2 separate regions of the Homo sapiens genome follow, and region 2 is linked to region 1. Evidence: fine-mapped expression QTL. Tissue or cell type: monocytes. Region 1 holds a variant in brackets; the other region holds the start of a gene. All regions are shown on one strand. Distances are between the middles of the regions.

Region 1 (8,187 bases):
TCTCAGCCTGCTATGGCAGACCGCTGATGACCACACTGTCAGGACAGTGCTACTATTCCACAGCACACAGTCCCCCATGGAGAACACAGCTTTCATGGGAACTGTTCCTCTGGAGGCACCTTTTCTTCCATCCCCCTGCCCCGGCTTTGGAACCGATAATGAAACACAAAGATCTAAAGGATGATGACAGTAGGTCTTTGAGGACACGAAGGGCTACACCCACCTTTGTCTCAGCAAAAATCCCCACCTCAGAGGCAATCCTGAGTGCTTCATCAGATAAACTAGGCCACGGGCTGCAGAAAGGCCTTCTGCAAGGTGGGTGGTGAAAATTTCAAAGTGGACTGGGGGAGTCGCACACAGGGGAGGCCATTCCATAAGCAACCACTAGGACCCCAAGAACAGACACTTGATCACACCTGTACCTCAGCAGCTCTGGGCCTGGTGTGAGCAGGCACCCAGAGTCTGGGACTGTGGGCACTAAAGCGACCATAGACTGCAATGGTGAGGGGGAGCAGGAAGAATAAAGGGGCACCCCTGGGGCCACCCAAGAATGCTGAGGCATGTTGACGAGGTGGGTGTATATGAAACGGGCTGCTTCTCATGTTTATTCATTACCGCTATGTGAAAGCACTACGCTGTCAAACCCATATCCCTCTTAGATGATTTGTAACAGGTTGCCCTTTTCTAGAGAAAGGAACAGCATGGAACAAGAGTAGTAATTTTAAAAGTCCTAGCCATAGCTACACAGATTAATTTAGCAGGGGGGGTAAGGGAGCCGCTATTAAGTAAAATGGAAAGATAAAATAACTTTAGGTTGGCCACAGTGGCTGAAAATAACATCACAATGGCCACTTCACAAAGTTGAAGCCACACTTACCTCCCATGCTATGTGATATCCAAACCACTGGCCTATCCCCAACACCAGCAGCTCTGAGCTTCCTAAGAAGTTCGTTGCTTCTGAATGCAATGGACTTTCTGAACAAAACAAAAACAGCAGGCATGACACAAGGCTATCGATCCCCTCAATTTGCTGTCTAATTTTTAGAGTTAAGAACTTTAGTCTACAGGACCAATGCTACATACTACATTTAGAGTAAGAAATACCCCCATTCTCTCTGCTTAATATAAAATACCCCTATTCTCTCTTATTGAACTCCTGGCCCCAAGGAATCCTCCCACCTCGGCCTCCCAAAGCACTAGGATTATAGGCATGAGCCACCACGCCTGGGATCTCTCTGCTCAATTCCTGAAATCGTTAATTCTCTATTTGTAACTTATTAACATTGGCCTAATTAGGAATATCTAAGCCCAGAACAGGCCATTCATTTACTGCATGAACATTGTTGGAGCACCTGTGTCAGGCAATTTTTTCGGGTCAAATGTGGGTCTCCCTGCAACTGCCCTCCAACACTTAGGATATGGATGTCCTTTTTCATCCAAGGCCTGACAATGAAAGTATCACCAAAGACTGTGGTCTCTCTACTGGTAGTTAGGCTGCAAAAATATTAAGCTTTCATAATTTTGGTTTATTCTTTAGAAATACTAGGGTGCTATTTAGAAAAACTAGAATGAGTCAAGTTTATTAGCACTTATTCCTTCCAATGCATGCTTTTATAACTAGCATAAACAGGATGCTAATAGAATCAGAATTCGAAATAAGTAATTTTTAAACTAAAGAGGAACTTCAAAACTATCTAGTCTGGTAGTTTCAAACTGTTTATTTGTAGACACATTTCTTCAAAATAAAGGTTCTCCAGAGCTCCTCTGGGTGAAATGGGGAGGGAGACCTGGGGTCTTGCCTGCTCACCTTGACACCCTTCTTGGGCACCTACGGGAGGTTCATTCAGAAAGCAGTTTGATAACACTGATTTAGACCAACTCTGTCAATCTGTAGACAAAGCTTCCCGGAAAAGTTAACTGACTGGTCTAAGACTGCACAGCAAATCAAAGGTAGGATCCGGCTACTCTCAGTCCAGTAACTCTGAAATCCAGCACTCCTTCCCATGTATACAACTGGCACAGATGACATACAAGGGAAATAGCAGCTGATATTTCTCAGCATCTTTCTCTTTGCTTCCTTTAGCCAGTATGATTGTGGACACAAGAACAAAAAAACATCACTTTTACTTCTGATAGAAAAGGAGACTGCTAGACAATCCACGATCCTTCACTATTAGAACAGTTGTAAATAAACCATGTTAGGAGCCCACCATTGGTGATATACCTAAGCCTTCTACTATTCCACTGCTTATTGACAGCAAACTCCTTCTAGAAGGAAGACAAAAAAGATTAGGTTTGTTCTTCATAAGAAAATCCTGTCTGTGGCATCAAAAAATTAAAATCACTTCCCATCCAAGAGGACCTAAACTTGCGGCCTGAATTCTTCCCTGTCCTCCTGGTCTAAAGTCGCCTCTGTTACCTTTCCATAGGGCACCTTGCTCTCCAGTCGCTGAGGCTGGTGTCATACTCCACAGATATAATTCGGAGAGCAGGACAGTCTTTTGCTAACCATGTCTAAGTAAAATAAAACATATGTGAGAACAAGTATGAATCTTCACCACTGCAATTACTGCCTAGTAAATCAAATTTATAACTAAAGGCCTCTTGCACTATAATTAAAGATAGCACTGGAATAAGGTTTGAAGGTACCGTAAAAACAATTCCAGCACTATCTTTTCAAGTCTCTGGTCTCGAAGTGGTACCAGTATTTATAGCATAAGGCCAATGAAGGTTTCAAGAGAATATTTTCCATTTTAAGCTGCTATAGCCAAAAGCAAGGCCTGTTTTAAAGTCTAGATCAAGTTGGCTTTTTGAAAGAATTTAGTAGAATGCTATAATCTCAGGACAGATGGCATAGTCTGACAGATTTTGGATCTGAGAATTCAGAGACACTAATAATAATCATCACAGTTCTATCTCTGTATACCCTAGGTCTATCATCATCTCTGTACTTCAGTGCCACCAGAAAGTGCAAATCATTCTTCTACTTGATAAGCCTTTGTGAAGGAGAATAAGTAGTAATGGAACAATGCCCTAAAAACTATTCACACGTATATGCAGCATCACTTTTAAATGAGCTTTAGATAAATTCCATTCAATGAATTCATTCCAGAATTAAGGTTCTTTGGGAGAAATAGTATCAAAGAAATGTAAAGTATTAATTAGCCAGGCATGATGGCATGTGCCTGTGGTCCCAGCTACTCAGGAGGCTGAGGGGGAATGACTGTTTGAGCCTGGGAGGTTGAGACTGCAGTGCGCTAGGATCGCACCACTGCACTCCAGTCTGGGTGACAAAATGAGACCCTCATCT[C/CA]AAAAAAAAAAAAAAAAAAGAAGGAAAGAAATGCAAAGTATAATTACTTCTTCAAAGACTTTCTATTTTTGTAATTATTAAGGTCATAGAATTAGGTAACTATTATAAATGTAAGTATTGTTATGTTATTTTTGTATTATATTACAACAAAAGTGAACTATTACTGGCTCTTGCCCCTATTTTTTACTTAATAGAATATTTTTTGAGTCATACACTGCACCCCAAATGGAAATTATACAACATAGGGTGACAAGCCCAGTTGTTGTCAAAACATACTACAAATCTCCCTAAGGGAAAGAAGAACTGCATGGGAAAAAAATCCCAGAACAAAGAGAAAAACAAGCAAGCCACAATCAGGGCCCCAGCAACCAGGGCCCCAGCAACCAGGGCCAGAGTCAGTGGCTCCCTTACCTTGGGCCAGCACGTCGTATATCTGTCTTCATCCTCCATAGGTTTTTCAATTACAGCCTGCTCACTGTCCTGCTGGCGCCATGTTTTGAATGCTGCTCCCATAAGGCCATGAATAAAAAGGACATCTGCTTTAATGGGCTGACTAATAGGGGAGAGAGTTTTAAAAAGAAGCAGAATAAATGCATTACTGCTTTGGTAAGAATCTACACAGCATTCTCTGTGGATGGTGCTTTAGCAGGCTTATGTGACATAAAACTGAATTAAAGCAAGCTCTATAAGCACAGGTTTGCTGGGAAAACCTAGAAGGAGCTTTGGCAAAGACATACATGAAGCATGTTCACTGTTCTCTAAAAATGGAGACTATTCTAGTCAGGCAGACCAACCACAATCAATTGTAATGAGCTTAGCAATCAATCAACTGACAGATGTCATAGATTACCCTCTAAAGACTTCCATTTGAGAATATTCTACAAATCAATAAAAGTATTTAAGAAATTAAAGAAGAACGTGCTAATAACAGTTTCAAAGTCAGTATATATAAAAGAGATTTTCAAAAATGTGTTAAGGAAACTAATACTTATAAAATGAGATTTCAAAGTAACATTCACTCATTGCATATGACGCATTAAAAACTGTAGATAGTATGTTAGTTGCAAGCTATTTACAGTACACATACAATTATGCAATGCACATATATAACCATAATATTTTATTTACAAATTGTAATTAACCAGGTAATCCACTTTTTAATTTAAAAGTTTTTGCTATTTTCTGAGGTACTTTTTGTAAAGTGCCCTAAGAAAACCAAGAAATATGTTATTTTTTCAGTGTGGTCCCTTCTATATTTATTGTCTTAGCAATTATACAACTAGATATAATGACCACAAATAACCTTAAGAAGGGGCATGAGTCAAACTTATTACAACTTATTCTTTCTAATGCATCCTTTTATAACTAGCATAAACTTTCTCCAGTCCCTTGAGTTCTAGGCCCAGGCTAATTTGGTTGCCACATAAGACAATGTCTTATCTCCTTCCTATTCAGCTGACTTCTACAATCCAAATCAGTTATTAACTCAGATCTAAGTGAAAATGCCTTGAACCAAAGGAGATATGTATTACAAAGTTTAAGTGTGACGCATTATCAAATGTGAATGCCACCTAACTGAAGGGAAGCCCTTTGTAAAATAACCATGACAATTTAGCTAGTTCACATACTTTTCATGACAACCTCCAATTCTTTTGTGGTTACTATAGACAAATTATTTTAGTAAATAAGATATTTGACTTATAAGTTATTTAACTTATCTGAATTATGCAGAAATAAGTTAAAAATTTGAGGCCTCTAGGCTTCACATTTCCAAAGGGGACAAAGCAACTCTCTTCTGCTTCCTTACCTTGTTCGATATTGGGGATGCAGCACATATACGCCATCCTGATATTTTTCTTGCACAGTTTCTCGGTCTAGATTTGCCAGGATTCTGGCAGCGTGTGAGGACTCCATAATGTGGGGAGATTTCATTGCTTCTGCCATGATGGAAACCCAGCCTGGTGAAAAGTACACATATCCTAAATACTGATGTGAATCCATCGCAGACCACAGAGAGAGTGAGGTTTCAAACTGAATATGATGGGAGAAAGGCAAACCTTGCGTGTCTGTCCTTGGCGGAGAAGTCCGACTATTCCAACCCCATTCTGCCCTACGATCCTCTGAGACCTGTGGCACAATACCATCCACATACCCCTTAAGGGACCTCAAAGAAGGAAAGAGGGGTTGAAGAGCCATTTTCTTTATTTAGAAAGCCTAACACTAATACCAATTATAGAGGTGTTCATAGCAGTTATAGAGGTGTTCACAAAAGTGAACAAAATACCATGATGTTTTGCTTTTAACAAGAATTATGAAACTCAGTGGGTTAATACTAGTTATTTCATCCTGACCAGCAATCAGTAATACCCTTTCATACAAATGAAGAAACTATTTCTTAACAATGAATTTGAGACACAAAACTCTTGTAGAATCTGGAGATCAGGAAGGAAAAAACATTTTTTAAAGGGAGGCAAACAGAAAATGCATGGATAATACTATCTATGCTATGATTTCTTTTTTTTAATGTTTTTGTTTTTAAAACTTTATATACATAAATATAAAAGTACATGTGCACACACATACACAAACACACAAAGATCTATACACTAAACTTATAAAGTCGTTACCTTTTAGGAGAGAGATAGGGTAGAAGAGGGCTCTGTAAAAAACGTATGTTTAGCTTTTTCGCTATATCTATTTTCTGAAGTACGGTGAAAAATCTATGTATTTATTTATATAATTTATTTAATTTAAAATAAAGCAGAATATGGGCCTTGAAGTTAGACTTGGGCTCACATTTCTGCTCCCTCCTTACTTGCTCTGGAACCTCAGTCAAGTTATTTAGCAACTGAACTAGAGGAAGGTTTTAATAAACTAATGTATGTGAAAACCGTGGGCCCAGGCCCAGCAGGCACTCAATACACGACAGCTGTCCCCATGCCCTTCTCCCACTCTTTACGACAAAAGTGTTGAGTCACTGTGATGATGGGAAGCTAGCATTTAATAACCTAAAAGAAGCTTCAGACTCAGTACTTAACAATATTCAAATTTATAACATCAGAAGATTCCTCTTCAAAATCTGTTAAAGATTTTAAAATAATAAAATAAGAATATTTAAAAATTATATCTATAGAGATAGACAAGTATGTTATTGGTATATATGAAAATACGGCTTTATTTTTAATGAAGTCACAAGAAAAAGCATGGTACAAGCCATCTCTGGCTTTTTTCAGTTGACAAAATATGTTCACAATGTCCGAGATACTCCACCTTTGAAAAATATCAAATGCCCTTTGGAAAACTTACTTCTTTAACATTGAGCATTTTAAAATTATATAACATCTGAATGCACTCATGCAAAACACATAATAATGTTTCAGTCAACAATGAACCACAAATACTATGGTGATCCCATAAGATTATAGTACAGTATTTTTGCTGTGCCTTTTCTATGTTTAGCTGTGTTTAGATACTCAAATATTTCCCATTGTGTTACAACTGTCTACAGTGTTCAGTACAGTAACCTGCTGTATAGGTTTGGAGCCTAGGAGCAATAGGCTGTCCCATACAGCCTAGGTGTGGAATAGGTGCTACCATCCAGGTTTGTGTAAGTATACTTTGCGATGTTTGCACAGTGACAAAACTGCCTAACGATACATTCCTCAGAATGTTTCTCCACTATTAAGCAATGCATGTCTGTACATGTTAACTGTAAAAAATAATGAAATAACTAAAAGTAGCATCTAATGATGAAAGTCTTGCTTTAGTACTCCCATAATTTCCCAACTCCATTTACATCCTCAGAGTAATGAAAGGTAGAAGTTTGGTGGACACCCTTTTGAAAAATATAGTCATATATCTATAATTTAAACACATACAATGGGCCAGGCGTGGTGTTTCATGCCTGTAATCCCAACACTTTGGGAGGCTGAGGCAGGCAGATCACTTGAGGTCAGGAGTTCAAGACCAGCCTGGCCAACATGTGAAACCCCATCTCTACTAAAATTACAAAATTAGCCGGGTGTGGTGGTGGGCGCCTGTAATCCCAGCGACTCAGAAGGCTGAGGCATGAGAATCACTTGAACCCGGGAGGTGGAGGTTGCAGGGAGCCAAGATAGCGCCACTGCACTCCAGCCTGGGCAACAGAGTGAGACGCTGTCTCAAAGAAAAAGAAAAATGTAGCTCTATGTGCACTTTTTGAAACCTAAATGGAATCATACTACTGTTCTGTGTCTGTACTTCAGCAGTATGTCTTGGAGAGCTCTCTATATATATCAACTTCATTCCTTTGAACTATAGTATTACGTCACATGAGTACGCCATTGTTTAACCACTATTCATTCCTATTGGCAGACATTTAGGTTGCTCCAACTTTTGTAAATCTGAAGGCAAAAATCTGCAGATCTGATACTAAGATTGATACAAAATATATAAAAAGAGGGAAAGACACAGGATGCCTAAAGAGAAAAAAACACAGGGCAAGTTAGCAGAATTCAAATTGGAGTACTGAGAAGTAATGAAGGCTGAGCAAAAAGAAGGTATATGTAGGTAACTCTTTCAGAAGTTTAGCTATAACAGGGAGGACAGGATGTTATAGGGGATGCAGATTATGTTTTTCACATCTTCCTCCAATGTATGTGATCAGAGGGTCCAGCTATGAGGCAGCAGCTGACCATGAGACCAGAAAAAAGTATACATTCCTGAGACTGTGAAAGGAGACAGGCCCAAACATGGCTGGAGGGCTTATAAAAGAGGTGTCTCTTTTCCTATTACCAAGAAAAGGAAAGAACAGGGTTTGGTTTTTGTTAGTGAGAAAATTCCTTTTAGGGCTTCAATTGTCTCAGTAAAGTAGGAGGAGAAGTCATCCTCTGAGAGGA
Region 2 (8,187 bases), 48 kb after region 1:
CTTAGCCTGCAAGCAATAATAAATGTTTGTTTTAGCCCGTAGCCTTTGGGATGGTTTATAATGCCTCAAAAAGCTGACATGTAACTTCTAAACTTTCCTTTACACGAGATATATGAGGTTGCTGCCAGCATAACTTGTTTTACAGTAAATTTTATTTTTTTATAAGTAGAGGGAATAGATGAATACACTATAAAATAACAATAAAAAGTATACCATAGGGCCAAGTGTGGTGGCTCATGCCTATAATCCCAGTGATTTGGGAGGCCAAGGTGGGATGATTGCTTGAGACCACAAATCAACTGACTATATCTGCGGCACATGCCTGTAATACCAGCTACTCAGAAGCCTGAGGCAGGAGGACTGCTGGAGCTCAGGAGCCCAACACCAGCCTAGGCAATACAGTGAGACCCACATCTCAAAACAAACAAACAAAAAACCCTAATGGAATACATATGTATGGACCTATTCCACTCCATCGATCTATTTATCTATCCTTATATAAACACTGCACTGTTTAGATTATGTAGGTTTTTTGTTGTTTTTTGTTTTCTTTTTGACAGAGTCTCACTCTGTCGCCCAGGCAGGATGGAGTGCAGTGGCCTGATCTCAGCTCACTGCAACCTCCGCCTCCCAGGTTCAAGCAATTCTCCTGCCTCAGCCTCCCAAGTAGCTGGGATTACAGATGCCCACCACCATACCTGGCTAATTTTTGTATTTTGGGTAGAGACAGGGTTTCACCATCTTGGCCAGGCTGGTCTTGAACTCTTGACCTCGTGATCCACCCGCCTCGGCTTCCCAAAGTGCTGGGATTACAGGTGTGAGCCACCGCACCAGGCAGATTACTGTAGTTTTTAAAGTAAGTCTTGAAGCTAGTAGTATAAATTTTCCAGCTGTGTCCTTCCTTTTCAAGACGGACTATTCTAGGTCCTTGGTACTTCCACATAATTTTAGAGTCTGCTTGTCAATTTCTATTTAAAAGCACCTTTAAGATTATGGGGCCAGGCACGGTGGCTCACGCCTGTAATCCCAGCACTTTGGGAGGCCGAGGCAGGAGGATCACGAGGTCAGGAGATCGAGACCAGCCTGGATAACCCGGTGAAACCCCATCTCTACTAAAAATTCAAAAAATTAGCTGGGTGTGGTGGCGGGCACCTGTAGTCCCAGCTACTCAGGAGGCTGAGGCAGGAGAATGGCGTGAAACTAGGAGGTGCAGCTTGCAGTGAGCAAAGATTGCGCCACGGCAGTCCAGCCTGGGCGACAGAGCGAGACTCCATCTCAAAAAAATATATATATATATTATGACGGTGATTACATAAAATCTGAAACACTGATTTTAAGTAGAGAACGGAGAAATTTTGAGACTAAGAAAGACACAGAAAATAAAAGGGAAGAGATTATAATTTAAAAATAAAACAAATATTTGAAAATTCCATTAAGTTTAACAATATGGAGGTCACTGGGATCTTCATATCAGTAGCTTCATTGCCCTGGTGGAGGAAGCCAGAGTGAAACATCATTTCATGCTTTCATTCTGATTAATAAAACGTGAGTTGTAGCTAGGTACACAGACAACAAAAAAGACTACATCACCTTTCTTTCTTTCTAGTTAACTATGGGCACTTACAAAGAATTGGCTAATGAAATATGAGTGGATGTGTCATGTGCAATTTCTGAAAAGTGTCCTTAAAAAGAAGGGTATGTGCCTTTCTTCCTCCTTCCCTCCTCCCTCTTGCTAGAATGAGCAACTGACAGTTTGAATTAAAGCAGTCATCTTAACACCAAGCATCTTATTAAGGACGGTAGAGCAGCCAGATAGAAGAATCCGAGTCCCTGATGATTACAGAGCTGCTTCCATAAAAGCATGGCTGCCTACCTATGCAATTACATACATATTTAAGCCAGTATTATCTTGTTTTCTGTGTAACACAGCTGATTCCAACACACCACAGTTTTTTGTTTTTTGGTTTTTTTTTTGAGACAGAGTCTCTCACTCTGTCACCCAGGCTGGAGTGCAGTGGCGCGATCTCGGCTCACTGCAAACTCCGTCTCCCAGGTTCACACCATTCTCCTGCCTCAGCCTCCCAAGTAGCTGGGACTACAGGCGGCTGCCACCACGCCCAGCTATTTTTTTGTATTTTTAGTACAGACGGGGTTTCACCGTGTTATCCAGGATGGTCTCAATCTCCTGACCTCGTGATCCACCCGCCTCGGCCTACCAAAGTGCTGGGATTACAAGCGTGAGCCACCGTGCCCGGCCCAGTTCTTAATATCTATATGCCAGTGATCTCAGAGTACCTCTAGCTACGATCTTTCCTGACCTATCTATCCAACAGCTATTGGAACATTTCCACTTGGATGTCCAACAGGCCTTTCATACTCAACTGTCCAAAAGAGAATTCTTTACTTTTTCTCCCCAAACTCTTCCTCCACAAATCTTCTCCATCACTATCCATCAAATGGTCAATGCTTTTTGATTGTAAATGGTAAATGATCTACCTCTTAACTGAAGCAAAAAAACAGATGTTGCCCTTGATTCCTTGTTTTCCCCTTACTCTACATCTAAACCACGCAGAGTTGCTCTTCTCTACCATCAAAACATACCCCCAAATCCATCCATTTTTCTCTGTATTCACTGCTACACTCTTGTCTAGTTCAAGCCAACATCATCTCTCATTTGGAGTAATAAAATGACACCTCAAAGGTGCTTTTTGTAACTTAAGAAATCCTTCTCAGAGACATTTAAAAAAAAAGTTCTGGAGATAGATAGTAGTGCTGGTTGCACAATGTGAATGTCACTGAACTCAACAACTCAACATGGTTAACATGATAAATCTTATGTGTAACAAGATTTAACAAAGCAAACAAAAAAGAAATCTTTCCTAGAGACAATGGTCTCTTATATTCCTTTCCAAATACCTTGCAGCTGTGCCATTCACATTTAGGTCTTTATCTGGAAACTGTTGTCAATAGTTTGAAAGTAAGAATCTAATCCTGTCTGTATACCATAACAATGCCAGATATCTCAGCAACCATATATTTCATCATCCTTTATTGAATAGTCTATGCTTTCCCCCTGCTTTGCAATACCACTTAGTGGTATACTAAACTCCCGTATGTAAATAGGTATGTTTCTAGTGTCTCTATTCTGTTCCATGAATCTAATTCTCTATCCCTGAATCAATATCATACCATCTTAATAATTACAACTTTATATTAAGCTTTGGTATCTGATAGGGAGAGACCTTATTTTTCTTCTTCTTCAAAATTGACTTCACTATTCTTGGTCCCTTGCCTTTCCATATAAATTTTAAGTTCAGCATGGCAAATTCCATAAAACAATATGGTGATTTTAATTGGCATTACACTGAATTCGTAGAACTGAGGAAAACTGACATCTTTTTGTTGAGTCTTTCCATCTATTAATACGGTATATCTCACCATTTACTTGGGTCATCTTTTGTGTTCCAACAGAGCCTTACAATTTTCTGTCTAAAGGACTACACAGCTTTAGGTTCATCTATTTCTAGGTACCTTTAGTTTTGAATGCCATTATGAATAGTGTCTTTTTATTATTAAAACTCCTAGTTAATTGTTACTGGTATACAGAAGTTTTTAAATGCAGAAATTAAGGCCATTTCTGACATCCCCCTGGCCAAAATAACCCCTCTAGTCACTCTTTATCACATCACCAAATGGTACTTATTCCTTAACTGATTTCAGAGTCTCTCTGCCCCCACCAAAATTAGTTACCTGTTCACCATTGTATCCCAAGCGTCTAGAATAATAGCTGACACACATCAAGTGCACAAAAATGGAACTGATGAGATCAAGGAAGAGAATGTATGCAAGATGAAAAAAAGCAAATAAAAGATACTTGGGAAGAAGAAGACTTGGAGGCAATTTTTTTATTTTAAAGAGAGTGCAACAATATGGAAATCACCAGTTGGAAAAGATTTGAGGGATAGAAAGAGGGAACTAAATGGAAGAGCTGGGTTCCTTAGCGATCACATGAACACACACGATGTTAAAAAAAAAAAAAAAAAAAAAAAGGCAGCATGAGGTCGGGCGCGGTGGCTCACACCTGTAATCGCAGCACTCTGGGAGGCCGAGGCGGGGGATCACCTGATGTCAGGAATTCCAGACCAGCCTGGCCAACATGGACAAACCCCGTGTCTACTAAAAATACGAAAATCAGCCGGGCGTGGTAGCGCACGCCTGTAATCCCAGTTACTAGGGAGAATGAGGCAGGATAATTGCTTGAACCCAGGAGACGGAGGTTGCAGTGAGCCCAGATCGCGCCACTGCACTCCAGCCTGGCAGACAGACCGAGACTCCATCTCAAAAAAAAAAAAAAAAAAGGCAGCATGAGCTTAATGCGGGAAGTACAATTTAACCTAAGGAACAGAAAACAAGAATCTCATATCTCAACTAGTAAAAATAATGACAGTGTTCCTTTAGACTTACAGAACAGACTTGGGGAAAGGGAGTAACTTTAGAACCTTCTGGGGTCTTTCACTTTAAAATGACCGTTGCCGAGTTTAGAGCTCTCTCAGCATTCAATCTATTCCATCTCTGGGGTTAGAGAGGGAGCAGGAAGCGGTGGTCTGCAAGGCTCAGAAGTGACTGGTGAGGCCCTTTCCTCCTCCTCCTCATCTCTCCGTGACTACCGAGCCCGGGAAGACGGACCGGCAGGTGCACTCCCCAAGGCCTCGACAGCAGCCAGAGAAAGGCAGCGACAGGGAAAGACGAGTCAGGCTCGCGACCACCAGAGAGAGAGGCCCTCACGCCCAGCCGAGCGTCAGCTGGTCGGTCCGGTCCGCGCGCCAGACGGCGGTGCTCGGCCGTGCCCGGTCCCTGCCCTCCCCATTCTCCGCTCCCCACCGCGCCCAGCTGCGCCGACGCCCCCGTCCGCCCCCACACCACCCCTGCCTTCACGTCCTACCTGCCGGCAGGCGGACTCAGCCCGTGCCCAACTGCTCGTCGGACCCCGTTGTCTGGGGAGCCCTACTCTTTCCGCGGCTCCCGGCCGGGACCCTCCACCCGGCGGCTGGCGGCTCGTGACCCCGCCCCCTCGGCCCGCTCTGGGCCCGCCTCCCGCCGGCTGGCTCCACCCACAATAGCGTCCCTAGCGCGATGGCGTATCGGCGCAGGCGCACTCTGCCGGCAACGCCGAGGCGCTTCTGCATCTGTGGGCCGAGGTGTGTGGCGAGCGTCCGAGCGGCTGGGGAAAGTGGGGTGTGGGAACACTGAGGGGTCCCAAAGAAAGGGGAGAGGAAGAGAAAAGCCCCAGAAGCCTGTCCACCGGGTGCTGGGGGCACAGGGCGGTGTCCCCCACTCTCTCCGGGCCCTTCCTGGCGGGGCCGCACGGCAGTCCCCCCCTCGTTTAATCGTGGGTTTCCTGTGGGGCTAGGGCTCGCCCTGCGCCCAGGTGTAAGTGGAAGTTAATTAAATGGGCGTACGCTGAGTGGTTTGTTTCCAGCCTAGGTCCGCACGGGACGTGATTTATTTAGTGAAGGGGCACAAGATCTGGAGATCTGGCTTGTACTTTTTTCCTTTGGCCAGGAACTACGGCTTAATCTCTTCCTTTGGTCTCCTCATATGTAAAATGAGGTGGCTGAGGCCGGGCGCGGTGGCTCACGCCTGCAATCCCAGCACATTGGGAGGCCGAGGCGGGCAAATCACTTGAGGCCAGGAGTTCGAGACCAGCCTGGCCAACATGGTGAAACCCCGTCTCCACTAAAAATACAATAAATTGGCCTGGCGCGGTGGCTCACACCTGTTGTCCCAGCACTTTGGGAGGCCGAGGTAGGTGGATCATTTGAGATCAGGAGTTCGAGACCAGCCTGGCCAACATGGTGAAACCCTGCCTCTACTAAAAATACAAAATTTGGCCTGGCGTGGTGGCGGGCGCCTGTAGTCCCCGCTGCTTGGGAGGCTGAGGCAGGAGAATCGCTTGAGCCCGGGAGGCAGAGGTTGCAGTGAGCCGACATCACGACACTGCGCTCCAGCCTGGGCGACAGAGTGAGACTCTGTCTCGAAGTGTATATATACATATATATATATTATATATGTATTTTATATATAATATATATTTATTTTATATATAATATATAATATGTATATTATGTATATTATATATAATACGTATATTATATATAATACATATATATAATATGTATATTATATATTATATATAATATTATATTGTATATTATATATTATATATAATATATTGTATATTATATATATTATATATTATATATATTATATTGTATATTATATATAATATATTGTATATTATATAATATATTGTATATTATATATAATATACAGTATATTATATATAATATACTGTATATTATATATAATATATTGTATATTATATATAATATATTGTATATTACATATATTGTATATTACATATAATATATTGTATATTACATATATTGTATATTACATATAATATATTGTATATTATATAATATATAATATATATTATATAATATATTGTATATTATATATTATATAATATATTGTATATTATATATTATATAATATATTGTATATTATATATAATATATTGTATATTATATATTATATATTGTATATTATATATTATATATAAAAGTGTGTATATATATACACACACACACACACGATACAACACAGTACATTAGCTGGGCTTAGTAGTGCATGCCTGTAGTCCCAGCTACTCGGGAGGCTGAGGTGGGAGGATCGCTTGAACCCAGGAGGCAAGAGGTTGCAGGGAGCAGAGATCGCGCCACTGCACTACAGCCTGGGCGGCAGAGCCAGACCCTGTCTCAGTAAAATAAAATATAAACTAAAAGGAGGTGGTTGGGCTCACTGTATAATTTTTGAAGCACCTTTCAGAACTATCTTCTTTGATTCCTGTCTCCCAGGATCTTACCCTTTGTCATTCTCCTGAATGGGAAAAGAAATCCTTTGAATAATGGACGGTTTATACCTGGGTTGGGCACACTGGTGTAGAGTTAGGCCTCTTGCTTCTATTAGGGCTAATTGACCTTGGGTAGAATTGGCTGGCGAGTAAGATGTGGCATTAATATTCCAAGTAGACTCATTTTAATTTTGTTAAAAAATCAGAATGTCTTTTTTCTTAATGTTAACTGTCTTTCATAGACTTAACTGTTAAATATTGACATTTAATTATTTTGCCTCGTTTCAGAGGCAGATCCCCAAAGTATATGAAAGTTAATGATTTTTAATTTAATGTTACCTTACTCTTTTTATTAGCATTCTTCAGGTCATCTGAACCTTCTGAGAAAACATGGTCAACGTCTTGAAAGGAGTGCTTATAGAATGGTTAGTAGTTTTGATACTGCATGAGTTTTAAGTTTAAATATTGAATCTTGACTTGTATGTATGTCTTTTCTAAAACCCTGTTGTTTTTAAGATATGGATGAAATCAAGTCTTTCGCTTTTAACAAGTGGCACAGATTTTGTTGCAAAGCTCCTGGTGCCAGATTTCAGTCCCTCTGTTGAATTGATGGAACTGGCATGATCAGAGGCAGCATATTTGTTAGATGAGTCGTCTTTAGAGAAACAGTGCTTGCATTCTCCTCAAACATGATGAATTTTAGGGCCTGAAAGAGTTCAGGAACTTGCTTAAGTCTTTACCATTACAAACTGTGGACTTTAAAAAAGAGAAAAACAACAGAGCCAAATGGAGGTTTCTTAAATTCCTTTAGGTACATTCCAGAGGAGAAACTAAAAACCATAAATGGGCAGAGTTGAGTTCCTCAAAGCAATCCAGTGTCCAGGAACCCCGGGAACCCTGCTCTGTGGACACTCCCATTGTCTGAAAATACTACTGTCTACTTTCGGTGCCTCTAATATGAGCCAGTGCATGGATAATGATACTGTTTACTGTGATGGCAAGGCTAAGGAGGAGCAAGACCAAACCCTAGGACACTGCCAACATTTAGAACAGCACTAGCCAATAGAAATCTAATGCAAGCCACAGATATAGTCTTACATTTTTTCTAGCCATCTTAAAAGTAACGTAAAATGAAACAGGTGAAGTTAATATCTTTTGTTTAACCCTGTCTATGCAAAACACTATGCTTTGAACACATACTAAGTCTTCAAAAAAATCTTCATCTTCAAAGTCGAATGGATATTTTAATTTTACAGCACATCTCACAGACT

What was found. PIP is the estimated chance that this variant, and not a neighbour inherited with it, causes the effect.
Region 2: it holds the start of SERAC1, and the variant in region 1 is fine-mapped to the expression of SERAC1 in monocytes (BLUEPRINT, PIP 0.95). The same link has a PIP of 0.9 or more in neutrophils.

What each region holds. Positions count from the first base shown.
Region 1 is chr6:158,115,308-158,123,494 of GRCh38, forward strand. SERAC1 (serine active site containing 1) reads right to left here. Exons shown (of 17, transcript NM_032861.4): 11 at 5,118-5,268; 12 at 3,722-3,863; 13 at 2,420-2,514; 14 at 878-975. Among named protein-coding and RNA genes, the nearest start is that of SERAC1, 49 kb to the right of the region's middle. RefSeq lists a silencer at 4,796-4,996. The variant C/CA (reference allele first, on the strand shown) is at 3,311.
Region 2 is chr6:158,163,198-158,171,384 of GRCh38, forward strand. It overlaps SERAC1 (serine active site containing 1), which reads right to left and starts at 5,065. Exons shown (of 17, transcript NM_032861.4): 1 at 4,943-5,065. GTF2H5 (general transcription factor IIH subunit 5) reads left to right here and starts at 5,153. Exons shown (of 3, transcript NM_207118.3): 1 at 5,153-5,198; 2 at 7,273-7,341. The coding sequence starts at 7,307. RefSeq lists silencers at 4,863-4,932, 4,973-5,152.